Linked DNA regions of Homo sapiens: regions 1, 2, 3 and 4 are each linked to region 5. The links come from fine-mapping of genetic effects on gene expression. A gene starts in region 5. Each other region holds a variant in brackets. All regions are shown on one strand. Distances are between the middles of the regions.

Evidence for each region.
Region 1: its variant is fine-mapped to the expression of MKNK1 in lung (TOPMed, PIP above 0.99). The same link has a PIP of 0.9 or more in blood mononuclear cells, fibroblasts and whole blood.
Region 2: its variant is fine-mapped to the expression of MKNK1 in whole blood (TOPMed, PIP above 0.99). The same link has a PIP of 0.9 or more in T cells and blood mononuclear cells.
Region 3: its variant is fine-mapped to the expression of MKNK1 in whole blood (TOPMed, PIP above 0.99).
Region 4: its variant is fine-mapped to the expression of MKNK1 in whole blood (TOPMed, PIP above 0.99).

What each region holds. Positions count from the first base shown.
Region 1 is chr1:46,572,399-46,576,514 of GRCh38, forward strand. It overlaps MKNK1 (MAPK interacting serine/threonine kinase 1), which reads right to left. Exons shown (of 13, transcript NM_001135553.4): 6 at 2,549-2,622. Among named protein-coding and RNA genes, the nearest start is that of KNCN, 23 kb to the left of the region's middle. The variant C/T (reference allele first, on the strand shown) is at 2,524.
Region 2 is chr1:46,579,869-46,583,984 of GRCh38, forward strand. It overlaps MKNK1 (MAPK interacting serine/threonine kinase 1), which reads right to left. Exons shown (of 13, transcript NM_001135553.4): 3 at 3,360-3,461; 4 at 662-759. The coding sequence starts at 3,459. Among named protein-coding and RNA genes, the nearest start is that of MKNK1, 22 kb to the right of the region's middle. The variant A/G (reference allele first, on the strand shown) is at 1,901.
Region 3 is chr1:46,561,159-46,565,274 of GRCh38, forward strand. It overlaps MKNK1 (MAPK interacting serine/threonine kinase 1), which reads right to left. Exons shown (of 13, transcript NM_001135553.4): 9 at 3,883-3,978; 10 at 1,491-1,685; 11 at 320-484. MKNK1-AS1 (MKNK1 antisense RNA 1) reads left to right here. Exons shown (of 8, transcript NR_038403.1): 6 at 2,354-2,418. Among named protein-coding and RNA genes, the nearest start is that of KNCN, 12 kb to the left of the region's middle. The variant C/T (reference allele first, on the strand shown) is at 1,870.
Region 4 is chr1:46,548,718-46,552,833 of GRCh38, forward strand. KNCN (kinocilin) reads right to left here and starts at 2,930. Exons shown (of 4, transcript NM_001322255.2): 1 at 2,348-2,930; 2 at 1,217-1,285; 3 at 476-550. The coding sequence starts at 2,498. The region is part of intron 3 of MKNK1-AS1 (MKNK1 antisense RNA 1); the gene reads left to right. RefSeq lists an enhancer at 1,053-1,692. The variant C/T (reference allele first, on the strand shown) is at 2,528.
Region 5 is chr1:46,601,931-46,606,046 of GRCh38, forward strand. It overlaps MKNK1 (MAPK interacting serine/threonine kinase 1), which reads right to left and starts at 2,338. Exons shown (of 13, transcript NM_001135553.4): 1 at 2,255-2,338. RefSeq lists enhancers at 1,652-2,152, 1,920-1,969 and a silencer at 2,300-2,519.

The DNA.
Region 1 (4,116 bases), 30 kb before region 5:
TAGTAGAGATGGGGTTTCACCATGTTGGTCAGGCTGGTCTCGAACTCCCGACCAAGTGATCCGCCTGCCTCAGCCTCCCAAACTGTTGGGATTACAGGCGTGAGCCACTGCGCCTGGCCGTATAACTTCTTAGAGGCCAAGTTTTCCCAAGTTTGGAAAACTTGGGGTGGGGACATAGGGATTCATCGCTGACTCATCACTACCTGTCCAGCTCCAAGTGTGGGGCCTGGTACGGAGGAGGTACCAGCTTGTATGTCTGTTAAACAAAACTGGACTACTCTCTTCTGTACCTGTCTATGAGGAGCTCAGAAGCGAGAGAGAACAACTATAAATAGGGCCAAAAAACACTAATGATGCTGAGGCTGATTTGGCTTCTGCAATCAAAAGGAATAAAACTGAAGGCACTTGGAGCTGAGGGGGCCTTTCTGCAGCAACGTTTTCTCCCCTGCATCTGATCTCTGATCCAAACAAGAGCACAAACTTTCAAATGGAAATGCCACACCCTTGCCAGACATGTAAAGGCCTGGGAAAAGGGGGGAAAAATGGGTTTTCCGCCTGAGCTTTCCCATTCATTATTGTTTTGTTGGCAATGGCTAACATTTACTGAGTAGTTACTAGTGCCATGTGCTATGGAATACTCTTGAAATAAACTGTCTTATTCTCACCACAATTGGACAAAATGGGTAGTACACTTATTCTCGTTTTACAGAGGGAGATCCTGAAGCCAAAAAGAAAAATGGTTGAGCAACTTGCCCAAGATTACGCACCAGTAAGGGGTGAGGCCAGGACTTAGGCCCAGGGCGTCAGTCAGGCCTCCGAGTCTGTGCAGACATCCCCCAGCAGGACTTGTGGTCTGACTGCTGCAGGGATGGACTCTCTTGAGCCAACCACACTGGGTCTGGCCTCAATAAGCTACATTAAGTTTACTGATATGGCGACAGAGGATCCCATCTGCATGTAGCATTTCAAACATGTAATTAACAGTCAGTCATGTGTTATTGGGTGGTGCAGGGGCAGACACAGGCAGGAACATGTGGCTTGGCTTCATGTGGTTTATGTTTACTACTAGAAGCCAGCATTTCTGGGCTGAAGGTATTATCTCTCTGTCCTAAAAATGGCACATGTCTACTGTTTTTTAGGGGGGATGGGGAGGGCATGAGAGAAGGGGAAGAACTGCCAAAGATTGTTCGCTTGCCAGATTAAACAACGGATCCCAATGTGCTAGGGAACATTCCCAGAAAACCGGCTCATGACTAGGTCCTAGCTTGCTCTGCTGTAGTGAGCCTCGTTTCCAAATCTGTTAAAAGGAAAAGCAGAGAATAATGCTTTACATACTTTTTTTTTTTTTTTTTTGAGACAGAGTCTCACTCTGTTGCCCAGGCTGGAGTGTAGTGGTGCGATCTCGGCTCACTGCAACCTCTGCCTCCCAGGTTCAAGCGATTCTTCTGCCTCAGCCTCCTGAGTAGCTGGGATTACAGGCATGTGCCAGCACACCCAGCTAATTTTTGTATTTTTAGTAGAGCCGGGTTTCACCATGTTGGCCAGGCTGGTCTTGAACTCCTGACCTCAAGTGATCTGCCCACCTTGGCATCCCAAAGTGCTGGGATTATAGGCGTGAGCCACTGTACCTGGTCTACTCTACATACTTCTAAGACATCCCCCAGCATACCAAATTGTTTTAATAATATTAGCAGCCAACATTTATTGGGCCCTTAGTGCCTACCAGACACTGTCCTAAGCATTTCACATGAATTATCTCATTTAATCTTCACAGCAACCCAGTGAGGTAGGTGCTATCAATATCTCTATTTTATAGAAGGGAATATTGTTTAGAAAAGGTTAAGTGACTTGCCCAAGATCACATGGCTAGTAAGTGATGCAGCTAGACATAACATAAGCTTTAGCTGTGTTGGTTTCTAAAGCACGCTCCCTCAACCACCAAGCCCCTCCGTGTGGCCCTCCATGCAGTTCCAGACATCCCTGCAAGTGTGTCCTAAGATTGGGGGAGTGATGGGAAGGGAAAGGGTTTCTCTACCCCACCTCATTATGTCAGAAAAGCAACTTAAGTATACACCCCAGTGATTATGTGTGTGGGTGATGGCATCTTTCCATCTGAAGGATGGCACATTCTCAGGCTTCCCCTTTATCCTGGGTCTGTGTCCCAAACAATAGGACCCTCCTCTCCTCTGTTTTAGCCTTTCTAGACTTCGCAATGTATTTGAGAGCTTCCACCCCATAATTAATGTAGTTAAACAGTGAACATGTCAAAACGGGATTGATAAATCGATGACTAAATGTATCTATATATGACTCCTATTATAATGAAAAGGCATTTATAAAATACCCACACAGGTGACATTCTAAGCTCTGCAAAATGCTAATTATCATCCTTCCCTCCGGCCTCCCTTCTCCCAAATCAAGGGCAGTTTTTAAGTCCTTCATCCTTTTTATTAGCTTGACTCGTTTTGGAAGTCTCTGGGATTCATGATGGATGATCACCACCCTGGGTCTTAATCAGAAGTC[C/T]ACACACATACTCAACGGTAAGTACCTCCTTGCAATTTCTCAAAGACCAAGTAAAACCTTGTGTCATCTTCAAAGAACTCAATCAGCTCCAAAATGTTCCTTAAATAGGGAAAATAGGAGGAGAGGGAAAAGGGGGGAAATGGTATTATATATTAAAGTCTACTTACAAATATACAATGAAAAAAATATACAACACCTGGTAGTGGGGCAGAAACCAACTTGAAATCAGAATGCTTATTAAAGACCCGCGTATGGAAGCAGCCAATGGTGTTAGCAAGATTCAGGTCACCTTATCTTTCCATAATGTTTAGTCTCTGGTGTTTTCACCAAGTCTGTGCTGTCAAACCCCAGCCCTAAAACCCACTAGGTAGAGTTATAAAAAAGTCCCGGTCACATTAAACTGAATAAAATCTGCAGCCGACTGGAAGCAATTGCGGCTAATAACACTGAATACTAGGTGTGTGTCCTGGAGGCAAGCAGCAAATAATTACTTGCCCTCCCTCTTGCCCATAAATCACGGGGCAGTATTTACATTGCCTGGAGAAAATGGAAACATCTGTCAAATGGACTTGGGGCCTAACATGGGCACCGCTAGACCCTAACTGCTAAGCGCTGCTTAATGAAACGGCCGCGTTCCTGGCCACTGTAGCACTTGTGGCCTTCCCCGGTGAGCACTCTCTGTCTGCCCGAGTATTTCAGTGCTCTGCCAACAAGGTCGTCTTGTAACTCAGTAGGGAAGCCACCAGCCTGGATATTGGAGGTGTTGTGGGCTTTTTTTCTTTTACAAAATAAAATAAACCAAGTAGAGTCTCTAATGCTGAACTAAGAAGCTGCAGGGCTGAAAATAAAAATCTGTCCCTCATAAAAAAAATGCTGACTACTTTGGGAGATATGAGGCTTTTACTAGTGTGAAGGCATCCAAATAAGATGGGCAAAATGGCCTAATTTGAAAGAAGATTGTGGAGGCAGTGCCTGGAGTTAAATCAACAGCAGCCCCCGTCCTCCAATCCTCCAAGCTTAATGACAAAGCCATCAATACCAGGCCACTGGCTCCCTGCTGACCCTACCGTGGAGGGAGAGAGGGGGAAGTGGAGTCTTAGAGGTGCCCCTGATTTAAAGCCACAGTGGGAGAGCTGCTCATTTGGAGCTGGTGGTGGGCAGAATGAACTGGGGCTAGAGATGAGCCGGACCCAGCTATCTGGAAGGTTCCAGGATCTTAGTGGTATCTGCACATATGTAAACATTCTAGGAGCAGAAACAGCAGCAAATATTCTTAACAGTTCTCCTCATCTTGGTATTAAGGCAAGTCCTTAAAGATTTCTACCAGGCAACACTCAGTCAACCTAGTTTCCACAGGTACCGAAAGAAATAAAACCCCATTTCCCCCCAACAACCACTGATTCAGATAGTTCATTCTTCTAACTTGCTTGAATTGATGATATTTACAGTATTTCAGAAGAGATAATAGCTCCTTTGCTGTTACTGCTGCTTTTCCTTTCTCTCCCTAACACTGAAAGGGGCGGAAGGAGGTACCTGCCTTGTGGGGACAGGAGTGAGAGCTAAATGCTGGAGTCAGGAGATGGTAAGAAATAG
Region 2 (4,116 bases), 22 kb before region 5:
AGTTTTGTTTTCTTCTTTTAATTTTTTTTTTCTGAGACATCATTCAGATGTTACCAAATCAGTCACCTTAGTTTTTAATCCTCACTATCATGCTAACATCTAACACTTGGATAGCATTTTGTGACGTGTAAAGTGTTTCCACCTCTCCCAGGATATTTTAATTTTCATCTTCATAACTGCCTCAGGAGACTGAAGGGCAGGTATCATCATTTAGAGATGTAGGAACTGAGGCTTACGGACATTTGATGACTTGCCCAAAGTCAAACAGTTATAGTTTGTCAAAATAGATATTCAGGTAGGCCTTCTAATTCCAAATCTGGTTGTCCACTCCCTGAAGCTGACTTCATTTGTCAGAATAATGAGAAACTTACTATGAGCCAGGCATTGTGCTAAGCACTTTACCTATATTAACTTATTTAATCCTCACAACAATTCTACATAGGTTCTAGTATTATACCCATTTTACAGATGAGAAAACTGAAGGACAGAGAAGTTAAGTAACTTGCCCGAGGTACACAGTAAGTAGAGAAACCAAGATTTGAATCCAGTGAATACAGCTTCAGAGTCCCCATTCTTATGGAATATAACATTTATTTGGTTCAAGATGAGCTAGGAATGACTATTTGCAAAGTAAAGCCTGGCATTCAGCTGAGACACTCACTTTGACGGCATACTCTTTGCCATTCTGTAGGCTCACGGCACCTTGAACTTTGGCATAGGCTCCCTCTCCAAGCAATTCAGAGGTCAGCTTGTACATATCTAGAGGTGAAATGGATGAGAGGAATAACAAGATGAGTCACCCTACTGCAAGCTCAGATGGGAAGAACTTTTGTGGCTCAGCTTCCCTGATCAGACGACACAGGCACCCAATGACTCTAGCACTCAGTGACAAGGAAGACAAGTAGCTTTCCCAGCCACCTGAGGACCCAGTTTCTCAACAACAAGACCACATACAAGGCATCCTGTTCCTCATTTTAGCGATGAGGTTAGCAAAAGGGTCTCAATTCGGCACATACTTCCTGAATATCTACTATGTGCCAGACAGCATAACAGAGTAAGGAATAAAATAAAGGCCAGGTGCAGGGGCTTACACCTGTAATCCTAGCACTTTGGGAGGCCAAGCCAGGAGGATTGCTTGAGGCCAGGAGTTCAGAACCAATCTGGCCAACATAGCAAGACCCCATCTCTAAAATATATATACGCATGATCCCTCTCCTCTAAGGGTCGCAGTCCAGTGGGGAAGACAGACACATACACAGGTGACCCCAGAATAAACCAGGCATTGGTAAATACTATCACAGAGGGACAAAGTACAGTTAAAAAAAAAAGTTGGGGGAAGAAAGGGTTAAATCTGTTCAGAGAGGCTGGGCATGGTGGCTCACACCTGTAGTCCCGGCACTTTGGGAGGCCGAGGTGGGCAGATCAAGAGGTGAAGAAATCGAGACCATCCTGGCCAATGTGGGAAACCCCGTCTCTACTAAAAATACAAAAATTAGCTGGGTGTGGTGGCACGCGCCTAAAGTCCCAGCTATTTCGGGGGCTGAGGCAGGAGAATCGCTTGAACCCGAGAGGCGGAGGTTGTAGTGAGCCAAGATCGTGCCACTGCACTCCAGCCTGGTGACAGAGTGAGACCCCATATCAAAAAAAAAAAAAAAAAAAAAAAAAAAAAATTGGTCAGAGAATCTGGAGGATCATCAGAGGAGAAGTGGTATGATTTGAATGAATATTCATTTACTCATTTACTGAGCACCTATTATGTGCCAAGTTCTGTGTAAGCACTGGCTATACAAAGGAGAATAAAACACTGTTCTATTTTATACCCCATACATGGAAGTCATTGGAGGCTTCTGAGAAGTCTCCAGAAGTCACCCACAGGAAATAGAAGTAGGATGCAAAGGAC[A/G]CCTTGAGGTTTTTAGGGTACTGAGTCATAGTTGTTCTAACAGAGTAATAGACCTGGGTTAAAGGAACATCTAGATGACCTGCCCAAGCTCACAAAGAGCACAGCTCTTTGAGCCCCTTCCAAAGGAGGCTACATCTCCATCACAGCACTAGCTGCCTGACCTCATCCCCACTCGGCCTCCATTCTTCAGCCTTTTCCTCTTGAGGCACCTAGCATTGAAACCCACAGCCTGAGCAGAAGACATTTCAACCATGAATTAGATTTTATCACTCTCAGTCAGGAGAAGTCCTGTCATTGCACAAGCTGTCCTTAAAAATAGGAAGTACTCTCTTGTGTTAACTGAAAGAGCAAAAGAGCTGTTGATTAGGAAACTATTTGAATACCTTGGGATCTTTGTCTCTCCCCCATCCCCATACCCTGACACACACAGACACACACACACAGACACACACCCCTGCTGTTTGAGTTAAAGGCAAACAAAAAACCCCTGCTGAAAGTACCTTCTTGGTTCCATCACGGTTTGGTCTTTCAGTTGTTTATAAGAGCAGATGGCACACTGTTATTCGTAAGTGTTTTAAATGACATGCTTCTCACAATGGACACATTGGCATTAGCCCTTTACACATATCAGGATAGGTGGGTGGCTGGAGGTCCCATATTCCCAACCGATAAAGTGCTTGTTATTGGAACCACTTTACAGAACAGCCAATTCACTAGTGTGTCTGGAAGGCTGGAAGGAGGGACCAAGAGGCGAAGCTACTTCAGACCTCACAACGAAAGAAAACAAAACAGATGAAGTGGGGCACGTTACTCCTAGGAGTAGCTACTGATCCTCTTGGTGCTTTGCACAAGTGTCCAATCACCCCATCACATGCCCAGTGATAACAGGACCCACACTGAGCCTAGTGCCTCGCACACAGAGAGTGTCAAAAAATGTCTGATGACCCAACATCGTTTCTACTGAACACAACACGTATTCTTTAAAATGTAGTCAAACACACACAGCATAAGTAGCTACAATCTGAGAGACAAATTCTCTGCTTACAGGAGACTGAAGTTTCATTTGCGGCCATGGCCTTTGGTGTTTCTCTCTTCCTCTTATATAGTTCTATCTCTCAGCAGCCCCTCCAGGAATAGCTGAGGGAAGAATCACATCTGAAAAAAGGAAGACCCCAGGCAATGCCACTGATAGATGGGTCTTCCTGCTCCCTGAAAAGGAAGCAGTACCTGAGCCATTCACAGGAGGCCAGTGCATCATCTGAGAGCTTTTTCCATCCCTGCTCTCTTTCTGTAATGCCCTGTGTAAACTCCCTCATCCCCATCTTATCTCCCTACCACACAGATAACCACCATCTGGCTCTAACTTGACGCATTCTGTGATCGGACCTGTGGCTCCCGGGATGCTCCTCCCATGCTTGGGAAGCTGCAGGCCCAGATATAGGGAAGTTGTGTGACCAACCTTCAAACTTTCCTGGCAAGGAGTCAGTGGCCCGGCCCCTCCGCTTCTTCTTCCTCCTCCTGTCACCATCTGCGATGGGAAGGGGTTCGCTACTGCCCATCTCTAGGAGATAAGAGGAGATGTAAGGGAAACATCACTGTACTGATCAAGCTGTAAATTTACCCAGAAGGAAAAAAAAAAGGTAGTGGGGGAGGACCCAGGAGGTTTACACTGATGGTTTTTAAATATCTGTGAAGACTATTGATTTGTTTTGACCTAGGAGGAAAAACTAAAGGCAAAGCCATTATGGGAGATCATTAACTGTGGAAAGGAGCTCAGACAGGCAGGCTAGATTAAAAGAGGCCAGCGGAAGCCTGCTTTAACCAAGCTCATTAGCGCGTGGATTTAGATCTGCCACTGGTCAAACCATATTCCCCAAACAGAACAATGACTCCATAGGCAGAACCCCACCTGTGACATCCTCCAGCCTCAGCATCAGAAAGGCAAAACCGAGAGAGCTAGGCAAGAAGGGGGTTGGGAGTGGGGGACCATGCAGATGAGTCATAGGCTCAGCAACATCGCTATGGATGCACACAGGGCACAAATGGCCTGGAGTGGAGACAGCCTCTGTGAAGGTAGCAATAGGGCTGGGGTTCAAAATAGCCCCAAATTACTTCATGTCCAAGAGCACGGACTTGAGTGCCTATGGAGCCTACGGCATCCTCTCCTCCCATAGCTCCTCCATCGGAAGGGCTGCAGGTAGTGCCCATTCAGAAGT
Region 3 (4,116 bases), 41 kb before region 5:
TCTATATAAGAGGAGGATGCTACAGACTTCAAATGACAATAGGATGCTTGCGGGGCTGGGTGCATGTACCAAATCCCCAGAGGACTCTGTTGGGGCTTAGTCTGTGGCCAAGTTTACAGCCAACTCTATGGCCTATAAGGGGCTCAGTCTGGGGTAACAGGAGGAGTCGATTCACTCTACACACTCAGGGATAGACGCTGTCCTCTTCAGCTGCACCAGCCACAAGGCTGGTGCTCAGCACTTGCTGGCATGACAGCTTCCTTGTGGCCATGCCACAGGCCTGAAGTGGTGGAAAACACCCCTCCCTGGAGTCACTCACCCCCTGCACCCATGGGTGCTGCAGAACTTGGGCGGCGCTAAGTCTCTGCTTTGCATCTCGCACCAGGAGCTTGGAGATGAGGTCTTTGGCTTCACTGGAGATGTGTGCCCAGTCCTTGTCAGGAAACTCATACTTGCCTTCCTGGATGCTTTCAAACAGCTTGTTCTAGGTACAAAAGATTCCTCCTGAGGCCACACTGCCAGGGATGGGCAGGATGTGCCTGTCATTGTTTTGATCAACCGGCTTCAATTGATCTCAGCTGTAGCTGCAGCTCATGGCTTGGGGATGCCACAGACTGGGGCCTCTTCCCAGACTCACCCCGCACTGTCCCCTAGATGATCAAACTATATAGAATGCCCTTGGCAGGCCAGGATGGCTATGCCCTTGGTGGGCTGGATGGGTGATGAGTGGAGATCACCCATAGAACAAAGCCCAAATTCCTTGGCTCTTCCTAGAGGACTCTCTGTGAACCTCTCAGGCCTCATCTCCCACTACCACCGACCTACTACTCCACTCTTCCTTCCTAGACACTCCAGCTATTTCATGTGCCCACATCTATGCCCGTGCTGTTCCTTCTACTTGTGATTCTTGTCCCTCTTCCGCAGGGCAGGATGCACCCTTTAAGAGTCAGTTCAGGGCTGGGCGCGGTGGCTCACGCCTGTAATCCCAGCACTTTGGGAGGCCGAGGCGGGAGGATCACAAGGTCAGGAGATTGAGACCATCCTGGCTAACACGATGAAACCCCGTCTCTACTGAAAATATAAAAAATTAGCCAGACGTGGTGGCCGGCGCCTGTAGTCCCAGCTACTTGGGAGGCCTAAGGCAGGAGAATCGCTTGAACCCAGGAGGCAGAGGTTGCAGTGAGTCGAGATCGTGCCATTGCACTCCAGCCTGGGCGACAGAGAGAGACTCCATCTCAAAAAAAAAAAAAAAAAAAAAAAAAGAGTCAGTTCAGGCATGATCTTCTAACAATCCTGCCCTGAACTCCCAGCTGGGCGGAGTGTCTGATTATCTCTATTTTACCTTGTGGCCACCGTGACAGGAGCGGGAGAGGGCACTATGAGCCCCCATCCCGATCAGGAACGCTCTCCCAGCCCAGTCCTGCTTGGCATCCCCCAACCACACTGACCCCTAGCAGGGTCTACGCAGTGCTCCCTGGGGCCGCACTCACCTGGCACACCCTGCAGACCTCGCCCCGGTCCCAGCCACAGTCGGCCCCGCAGTGACCCACGAAGGGTGGGTAGCCACTCAGCATGATGTAGAGGACCACGCCCAGGCTCCACAGGTCACAGCGCTTGTCGTAGAATGTGGCCTGGTCCGTGAAGACCTCCACTACCTCAGGGGCCATGTATTCTGCAGAGCCACACTGTGGGGGCCAGGGTTGGGGGAGGGGGAGATGGCAGAGAACAGAGAGGCTTAGTTACAGCAGAGGGGATGGCAGAGAGCAGACTGTGATGGGACTGGAGCAGGAGGCTGGAAGGATGAGATACAGATCAGGAAGGCCAGCCAGTGAGCCGCCTGATGCCACCAAGGCATCTGCAGACTGAGCT[C/T]CATCATTTTCCATCATCCAGAGGAGCAGTTCAGGTCACCTTATCCTTCCAGTTCCTCCTCCAGTAGGCAAAGACCCTTGGCCAAGAAGTTCCAGGAATCTCCCCCTGCTTCAGCTTCCTATAAACAGATATTTCATGTACAGGTACTTAAATGCACCAAGAATGTGGCTCTGGAAGGAGATCCAGTTCCACACAGCAAGATTTCTTAAAGTGAATCCTGTCGTGCTCCCCTGCTAGCTCAGAGCAGGAAGTGTAACAATTAAGAGACCGTCAAAGCTACAAAGCTCTTAGAACAAATCCAACCTTCCCACCCCTCCCATTTATAGATGGCAAGGGCAAGGCCAAGAACGGGACAGGGATCTGTTTGAGCACATCAATGGCAGCCCTAGGACCAGAATCCAATATTCCTTTCTCTCACCCTTGTGTAGAAAGCGGCTGATAGGAATAAAACACGTTCTTTTTGCTCCACTCTTCATTATTTCAGGCTCACCAAGAAACAACCACCTCCCGCCTCCACACACCCTGCAAAACTAATTTGACTGAAAGATGGTAAGTGTTCTCAAGAGAGGATATTTTCTTTGTTATTGTCAATTAGAATTAATGACTTTGAAAACAAGGTAGTCCAGTGTGTTAGAAGCTAAGAAAGAAACATTCCTGATAATGTTGTTTAGAATAAGATACAACACAGGCATATTAAATATGCCCTTAAAGGGCATGTCTTAAAAGGGTTATTAGGGGCCAGGCGTGGTGGCTCACGCCTGTAATCCCAGCACTTTGGGAGGCCGAGGCGGGTGGTTCACAAGGTCAGGAGATCGAGACCATCCTGGCTAACATGGTGAAACCCCGTCTCTACTAAAAATACAAAAAATTAGCCAGGCGTGGTGGCGGGCGCCTGTAGTCCCAGCTACTCGGGAGGCTGAGGCAGGAGGATGGCATGAACCCAGGAGGCAGAGCTTGCAGTGAGCCGAGATCACGCCACTGCATTCCAGCCTGGGCAACAGAGCAAGACTCTGTCTCAAAAAAAAAAAAAAAAAAAAAGGGTTATTAGGAAAATTTACTTGTGAAGCATACAAATCTCAAAAGAATCATAATTATACTCTATTAGTTATACAAGAGATGTTTTAGGAAGAAGTAGCTCCAAGCAGCACCATCTGGTCATGAAATGTGAAATCAGAGAAGCAAACAGGCTAACTTGGCCAAGCGATCCCATGTGCATATAGCCTGAGACCTCACAGTTCCCACCACAGAGAGACTATCCTGTCCAGTCAGGGAGAACAGCTCTCCATCCCCCATTACAAGGGGGCTGCGCTGTGCCTTCAGCAGTGGGAATAGGACTTACAGAACTACCCAAATGCTCATATGCAAAAGGGCTGGCCTGGGAGTAGGGTCCATTTTCACCTGGGTCAGGAGTCAGGGCTCAGCCTGTGTTTTTTTTATTGTTTTTTTTTTTTTTTTTTTTTTTTTTTGAGACGGAGTTTTGCTCTTGTTGCCCAGGCTGGAGTGCAATGGTGCTATCTCGGCTCACCGCAACCTCCACCCCTCGGGTTCAAGCGATTCTCCTGCCTCAGCCTCCCAAGTAGCTGGGATTACAGGTGCGCGCCACCATGCCTGGCTAATTTTGTATTTTCAGTACAATGGGGTTTCTCCATGTTGGTCAGGCTGGTCTCAAACTCCTGACCTCAGGTGATCTGCCTGCCTCAACCTCCTAAAGTGCTAGGATTACAGGCATGAGCCATTGCAAACGGCCAGCCTGTGCTTATAGATATAATTTGTCTCTTCATCAGCAGAGAGGACCCAACCCAACTAACAGTCCAAGTGTCAGTTTCGTTAGCAACTAAGGGGTCAGGGGAGGCTTGAGAGCCACGAACACAGAGCAGCAAGCAAAATGATCACTCAGGCAGCAGGAAGATAGGTCCACTTGGTTTTCCATCCTTAACCCTCTGTTCTGGACCTCCCAGCTCTGGATCAGGGAAACACTCCAAATACTTAGGAGCCCAGAGGAAGCATACGTACTGGGGTGGTCAGCTCTGGTGTGGTTATGGGGGTACAGGAGTTGTTCAGTTTCATCCCACTGCCCAAGTCAAAGTCACAGATTTTCACTGGAGACACCTGAAAAGGAAAACAGAAGACAGGGTCACAGATATAAGAAACTACGGGGCAAGAGGAGCCAGGCATGGCTGTACGGGTGCATGGCTCCGTGGCTGTCACACCGCAGCTGGTTTTGTCAGGTCATGTTTGCTCTCCGGA
Region 4 (4,116 bases), 53 kb before region 5:
GCAAGGGTCTGACTGTGCACCTGGGGAAAGTGCCAGCAGTACCGTCTCCCCGCACTGGGGAGGCCCCTTCGGCATGCCGCTCAAGGCTCCCGGGCCCCATGGAGCTGCTCAGTCAGGGAGGGGAGATGAAAGATGGATTCAGGCTGGGCACGGTGGCTCACGCCTATAATCCCAGCACTTTGGGAGGCCGAGGCGGGTGGATCACCTGAGGTTGGGAGTTCGAGACCAGCCTGACCAACATGGAGAAACCCCGTCTCTACTAAAAATACAAAAATTAGCCAGGCGTGGTGGCACATGTCTGTAATCCCAGCTGCTCGGGAGGCTGAGGCAGGAGAATTGCTTGAAACCGGGAGGTGGAGGTTGCAGTGAGCCGAGATCATGCCATTGCACTCCAGCCTGGGCAACACGAGCAAAACTCTGTCTCAAAAAAAAAAAAGAAAAAAGAAGGATGGACTCGGGAATTTCTGGAACTTACCTTCCTTGTTGCCATTGGTGCTGGATCTTCCTTCCCCGTGGTCTGCCCCTGGATGGGGATGGATTCTTAGGCTCCCTGCAGGATGAGACCACCCCAAGCCCCCTGATTACTGAGCCATTCCCCAAATCAAGCCTAGGTTGGGAAGGGAAGTCCTTCTTGCTATCTAGTCTCCATCCCTGATGCTGTCTTTGCTCCACTGCATTCCTTTAGGTCTCACATGATCTGGGCTGATTTGGGCAGGAGAAAAAGAACTGGGCCCTTGAAGGAGAAAATGGCAGATCTTTTAGGGAGGTGAGGTCCCGGGGAGAACTGGGGCCATGAGAAGCCCCATAGGATTGGTGGAGATGGCAGCCTGTATGTGGGGAGCTGAGATGAGGTGGGAGCTGTGCAGAGGCTGTGGGGTCTTAGGGGAAATAGAGGGTCTTTCATGGGGGCTCAGGGATGGAGAGGGAGTTATTTAGAGATGTTGGAGGCTTTGGGGAGTCATAAAATCTCTCAAGGGAGATGAACTTCCCAGCTCTGAGCTGGTTCAGGCACCTTTGCTGCAGGCTGGATTCTGCCGTTCTGTAGTCATGGCAACGCCTGCACAACACACACACACACAGCAGCTCTAACACAGACAGCTAGCGCGGTCTCACACATGGGCTCATCCCAGCCACACAGTGGGTCACAGACGAGCACACAAAGGGTCTGGAACAGTCCTTGGCAGAGGGGTCTGCTGGGGTCAGGGAGAGGCCTCACCTATGGTAGGCAGGATGTGGTCCAGGTTGAACCGAGCCTTCAGGAAGGGGTAGGCCAAGATGAGGAGCCCTGAGAAGAGACACAGGGGGTTCTGTGATGGGGAGGAGCCTGGTGAGTGTTGAGGCTGTGGGTGGGCTGGGAGCCTGAGGGGTGGTTTGTGAGATATGGGTGTGCATGGGAGGAGCACAGTGTGCAGACTTGGGACTGTGAGTGTGTAAATGTGAGCCTGTGGGTGTGTGCATCTGGGTTGGTGGGGGCAGTGCCTGTTTGGGGAAGAGGCTACAGACTGTGAAGGCCCCACCTGCCTGGCTCCACCGTTCCTAAGTGAAGAGCAGGTTGCTGGAATGAGCCTGGCTGACACCACCACTGCGTCTCTGCTGTCCCCACGCTTCCCCAGGGCCCCCAGGGCCGGACTGGGTGCTTGTCCTCAGCATGTTCCTCCCCACCCAGACCTGGGGAGCAGGAGCAGTGGAGCCAGTCCTGCCTTGCCCGCCCCCGCTCCATCCCCCGATGAGCATCTGTGCCAGAACCCGCAGGTGTAGATACCTAAAGCCCCCTAGCCTGATGCTTCTGGTCCTGCCTTTGGCCTGGGCGGGGGCGGGGGGTGGGGTGAGGTGAGGTGAGGTGAGGGATGGCATTCAGCGTCACTGCGGGGCAATCAGTGGGCGTGGCCCCACACAGATAGATGGACACAGCTGCTGTGGAGGCAAACAGGGAAAGAAGACGAAACCCTTTTTCTGAGCTGGAGCCTGTCTTGGCTCAGAGAGTCCTCAGGAGCTCTGTCCTTTTACCTGCCGCCATCAACCCCCTGTTCCGCCCAGATAGGCTGATGAATCCCACCACAAATCCAGGAGCCTAGAGCTTGGGGCTGGAGAGCCAGTGGGAGTAGCCAGAAAAGAGTGTGACGGCCAGCTCTCCTTCTTTTCTCCTCCCTGTGGCTGGAAGGAGCCCCAGCGCGTCGCTCCTCTCCCGCCTGTGCCCCTGATGGCGGCCTTGCTCACACCTCTAGCTTCCGTTCTCCCCAGCTGATTCCTGCTGACCCAGCCCTTCCCTGTTCCTTGTTCACCTGACGATGCCCCTGCCCCCACCTCCAGAATCTCCCTTCCCTATCCCAGCCCAGCCCCTGCTCACCCAGAACAGCAGCGCCAATAAAGACACCGCCCATGGCAGCTGCAGCCTTGGATACGGAGATGCCGATAATGATGCTGCCAGCCACCAGCCCGAGAGCCACGCAGGCCAGCTGCAGGCCGCGGAAGTCTCTGCTGCTGATGGGGATGTCCATGCAGGCCCACCCGGGGCACTGCCTCCAGC[C/T]GGTGCAGTCTGGCCCCAGAAAAGTCCTGGAAGTTTCTGGGCTCTTGGATGTCTCCTTGTTGGCGCTCCAACTTCAGGGTAGGAGTTTCTGGGCAGTAAGATGATAGGTGGGGAACCCTGGGATTTATCTGCAGTCCTATTCCACTGCTCCACTACGGGCCCCCCAGTCCCACCTTGACCAGGGATCTGTACGAGGTCACCCAGCTTACTCTTCCTCTCTCAAAGCCCTCTGAAGCTGAAGCCCACCCTTGGGACTCCTGTCTGGCTACATTTCTGCTTTGGCTGCCAGAGTTCTAGGGAGCTGGGCCTGTTCCATAGGATCCTTCCCTGCCAGCCTCCACCCAGGAGAGTTCAAGCTCCCCTGCCCAGGACATCCTGCCCCAGCTTCCTAGAGCCACTTACTTGCCACTGAACCTCAGCCTATGAAAATTTAAAGCAATGAGAGGCAGGGTGAGGGGGGAGTTGGTCCAGCGGCCACAGGCTCCTCAGAGATGTAGGCAGCAGGGAGGTGCTGAGTTATTCATGAGGTTGCAATGTGAGTGGCTGTCTGGGTCCCAGGGCCCAGCGGGCAGTCAGCCCAGGTTCCACTGCTGGTTCCTGAGGAGGAAGAACGAGCTGGTGGCTTTGCATGTCGTTCAGAAGCCAGGGATGTGAGGAGACTCCTGATCACATGCTCAGGGCCCGCTGTAATGTGCTCTGCCCTTTGGCCTGGAGGTGCACCTGGGGTCTCTGCTTGGAGTCTGAGATAGACACACAGCAGGAGGCTCAAGAGACAGGAACTGCACCTGGTATGGAAAGCGGACAGGGAGAGGCATCCCTCCAAGTCTGCTCCCTACCCCTGCCCATCCCATCCCCATCCTGTCCACCTCTGGGCTCCCAGGTAGGGCTGAGGGCGTCCTAGTTTGAGGCTTGATCTCAGGGGACTCCCTTGTCCTCAGGTGGGCTTGGTACCCACCCCCCTTTTAGTGGCCAGTGGAATGGAGAGTGAACCCTTCTAGCCACCTTGGGGATCCCGACTGGGAGTGAAAGGGAAGAGCAGTGGTGGTGCTGGTGTGGGCAGGAGGAAAACACCTAAGGGGTAGGGTAGAGAAGAGGACTTGGTAGGGGCTAGGTGCCGGGAGTGGGAGGCTGGGTCATGGTTGGTGCCTTCCCATCCGCTGAACTGAGCACCTGCACCCAGCCTGTCTGAGTTACTTGCAGGATGCCCCACCCCAAGGCTGGGCAGTGGTCACCAATGCAGCCTAGCCCTGAGCCCTGCCCCGGCCCCCAGTTCCAGCCTTTATCATTCATTGCGTTATTTGGCCCTTTATGGATTGGGGACCCCCCAGTCTCAGAATATGGCCCCGGCCTGGCCCTGCACCTGGGCACAATTCCTAGGGTCCCATAATCCTGCTCGGAGTCCCGTCGCCAGCCTCCCTGGCCTCTCTTTGGATGCCCCCTCTCTGCACTGCATCTGCAGTCTCATATTGCCAGGCTCAACTTCTTGTTCCTCCACCTGCCTCCATGGCTGCCCTGTTCTTGTTCTATCTCCTCTGTAGGCTGAGAGCCCCTTGAGGGCAGGTTCCAGGAGTGAGCTCCCCAGAATGCTG
Region 5 (4,116 bases):
GTCAGCCTTTGCTACAGAAGATGGAAAGGGGAACAACTAATCCAGCAGAAGGCTCAGAAAAGCTTCACCATGGAGGCCACATGAGATGTAAGAGATGTAAGCCTTGAAAGATGAGGAGGAGGAGGGAAATCCAGGAAGAGAGAATATAAGCAAAGGCTCGAGCAGGAACATGCAGGGAGTGTTTGAGAAACAGAGATTTGGCCGGGCACGTTGGCTCACATCTGTAGTACCAGCACTTTGGGAGGCCCAGGCAGGCGGATCACCTGAGGTCAGAAGTTTGAATCCAGCCTGGCCAACATGGCGAAACCCCGTCTCTACTAAAAATACAAAAATTAGCCGGGTGTGGTGGCTCATGCCTGTAATTCCAGCTACTCAGGAGGCTGAGGCAGGAGAATCACTTGAACCTGGGAAGTGGAGGTTGCAGTGAGCCGAGATTGTGCCACTGCACTCCAGCCTGGGTGACAAAGTGAGACTCCATCTCAAAAAAAAAGGAGAAACAGAGACAACTAGTTTATTTTGACTGAAGCACAGGTTGCAGGTTTGGGAAAACCAAGGGAAACAGGGAGGGGAGAGGTGTGGGAACAAATTGTGCAGGAACTTGTCTGAGGCTGGAGTCCAAACTCTACATCCAGCTTGTCCAACCCGCGGCCCTGGATGGCTCTGAATGTGGTCCAACACAAATTCATAAACGTTCTTAAAACACTGAGATTTTTTTGCAATTTTTTTAAAGCTCATCAGCTATTGTTAATGTTAGTGTATTTTATGTGTGGCCCAAGATGGTTCTTCTTCTTCCAATGTGGCCCAGGGAAGCCAAAAGATTGGACACCACTGCTCTATATAGTAGGCAATGATGCCCACCAAGGTTTCCGAGTAGTGTCTCAGGAAGAGCACAAGGGCACCCATGAAGAGGATGCAAAAGGAACTAAGTAATTCAATTACTCTGGGACCACATTACAGGAGACCACATGCACTTTCTAAGCACGTGCTGGGCTCTGACAGCTCCTGTTCACAGAGCTTCCCTCTCCCATGGCTTCGCTTCATGCAATCTGAGTTGCCATCCCCCACAACTGTCAACATCTGCAAAATACCAGAGTAACAGGACTCCTAACCAACTCTCTGGATTACAGAGAGAGAAGTGTTGAGGTGGGAGCAGATGGGCAGAGGGGGCACCAAAGCCTCTAGCTGGCTCAGTTCCATATAAAACCCAACCCTGGATTTCCTCTTCACATCACTTCCAGCCCAGCCCTCTAATGAAGGGCTGAAGCTAAGGAGAGTGGGCTGAAAGCACCTGGCTGATGGGTGGTGATCCAGTGAGACATTACACCTACTGTCCAGCATGTGCCTGGCGCATGGGCAGTGGTGCCCTTCCCATTCTGCAGGGTCAGTTCCATCTGTAAATCCCACTGAGGCTTCAAGGCCCAGGTCACAACAACTCTTCTCTCAGAGCCTTTCTAAAGTACCCCAATCCAAAATGACCAAGCTCCTAGAAATCACAGCTACCATGTATTCAGCACCCATTACATGACAGGCGCCATACTAGGTGACTTCCATATAATCCTATTCACCCTTCACAATGACCCTATTATGGCCATTTCCTAGGGAAGAAAGTGAAGCTCTGGGAGGGGAAGCAGACTTGCCCCAGGACACACAGCTAAGAGGTGGAAGAGATGAGATCTAAACCCAGGACTCCCTGACCCTGAAGTTGAGCACTTCTAACAACACTTCATTCCTGTGAGCCTGCCTGCCTCTGATCTGCCACTGTCAGGGAGCTTGGAGCTCTCTAGAAGACAGGGTGCACCTGACACTCTTATTACCTTTCCCTGTGGACAGCCATCCACACAGGCAGGAGCCTTTAAATACTGAAAATAAATGAAAACAATTAACTTAAAAATAACGCAGTACACAGATTTCACAAATTCCTCACGTGAAAAACTATTCATGATACTGGACTGCCTGAGCCCTGCGCCCAGCCATAGCCTCGGTCCTGATCCCTGGGAGAGACTGAGTCTCAAACGGGCCACAGAGTAAGCGCCATCTCGGACACCGGCCACGCCCCGACCCCAGGCACAGAGGTCGCAGACAGCTCGGGACAGTCCTGAAAAGCGTCCCCTTAGGCTGTCCCTCCGCAGCTGAATCGCGTCGTGACCTCGGGCAGCCGTGAAGGCCCTGACTGCCCCCTTCCGGGCACACGAGCTCACTCACAGACCCCGGCCCCATTTAGCTCGGAGGAATACCTCGCAGGTCTCGCTTTTACCTTCGCTGGCTCCCGCCGGGGAGCGGTCGCGCGCACCCCTACCTGCAGATCGCTCCTCCGAGAACGCGGAAGAGGCGGTGCTAGATCCAGGGGGTGGGCCCGATCAGAGAGGAGGGTGAGGGGGCGGAGCTGCGCCTGCGCCCTGATGGCTACCCAGGGCCGCCTGAGGGCAGGGGGCTCGAGCTGAGCGAACTGCGCAGGCGTGACAGGGAAGAGGCGGGGAGAGGGGAGATTGCTGGCAAGCGGGTGGGGCTTAGCTCCTCCGGCGCTTTCTTTTCCGAATGGAGGGTGGAGAAGCCCGGGAAGGTAGGAGGCCGGGCGCGACAGGTGTAATTAACATGTACTGAGAGCTTCTGCAGGCCAGGAAGGAATTTTAAAATGCCTTTTATATGTGGGGAAATGCTGCTAGTCTTTTCTAAAACGGGGGCCAATTCTGTACAATTTCTTTAAAAGTCTGAGTGCCTAGAATTTCACCATAAGAGTTTCTCCTTGAGTACAACATTATCCCCAGTATTTCAAAATTTTTAAAACTTTTAAAAGTTCATTTCTTGGGGAAAAACAACTGTAAATAGGTTAATGCCTCAACCAGTCTCCCCACATCCCCTTCCCAAGTCTGCAGCTGCGATGAGAAAGGATGAGAGTGTGGACTGGGATTTAATTCAGGCGCTGACTCCGAGTGATGGAGGTGAACATCCCTTCCCTGCCTGTCTCAGGATTATCGTGAGGATTTGGTAAGCCAAGCTAGTTAAAGAGCCCCAGGGACTTGCTTCCCATCATCCACCTGACAAACATTTGTTCCCTGTCTTGTCGGGGCTGTCTTTTCATCTGTATGATGGAAGGAGATTGGGAATATTAGTGAACATTCAGGACTTTGCTAGATTTCCCAATCTGGGTGAAGGCCGGAGAGGCGGAAGATCAAGCTTCTGTGTTCATTCCCTTCTGGAATCCTGCGGTCCAACCTGAGGGCCCCGATGTATCCTGACTTCTCCCACTCATTACCTTCCGTGGAGGCCGATCCAAGCTTCAAGTCTTCAGAGGCCCTGCTGGCCTGTTCCCTTCCCTGTTGCCTGTGGCAATAGCCCAAGAGATTCAGGACCTATGTTCCAGGTTCTCAAAGTTGCTATGTCCCTCACATGGCAATCAAATTCAGTTAACATCTTTGAGGGCTCTGGGGGTGCTCAGAGGAAGGAGGGCTCCCCCAAAGCAGGTGGAGCTCTAGTCATGACTGTGGCTTATTTCACCACATATTCCACAGCTTGCTGTGGGGTAGGGAGGAGAGGCAACAGGAAACCTCAGAGGCTGCAGTGTTTATGGGAGCCGAGGGTGATGCGGCATCCTTTACTCAATAGGTGGATGCTCTGCCCCAGGCTGGAGAGGATGGCTTACTACCTAGGTCCCTGCTCCAAATATTGTTTTGGAATTTTTTTTCTTTTTTTTTTTCTGAGACAAGGTCTCACTGTGTTCCCCAGGCTGGAGTGCAGTGGCACCAGCTTTGCTCACTGCAACCTCTGCTTGGGCTCAAGTGATCCTCCTGCTTCAGCCTCCTGAGTAGCTGGGATTACAGGCATGCACTACCATGACTGGCTAATTTTTGAATTTTTTTAGAGGCAGGGTTTTGCCATGTTGCCCAGGCTGGTCTCGAACTCCTGAGCTCAATGATCCTCCCACCTTGGCCTCCCAAAGTGCTGGGATTACAGGGAAGAGCCACTATGCCCAGCTTTGTTATGGACCTTGAGCCAACAGGAAAATAAAGCCCAGCCTGACTTCTCAACCAAGCTGCCACTCTACCTCCCAGGACCCTTTGTTACTAGGTTTTGCCCCATGGGAGTGTGCTCTTTTATCTGCATCATTGAGGCCCTATC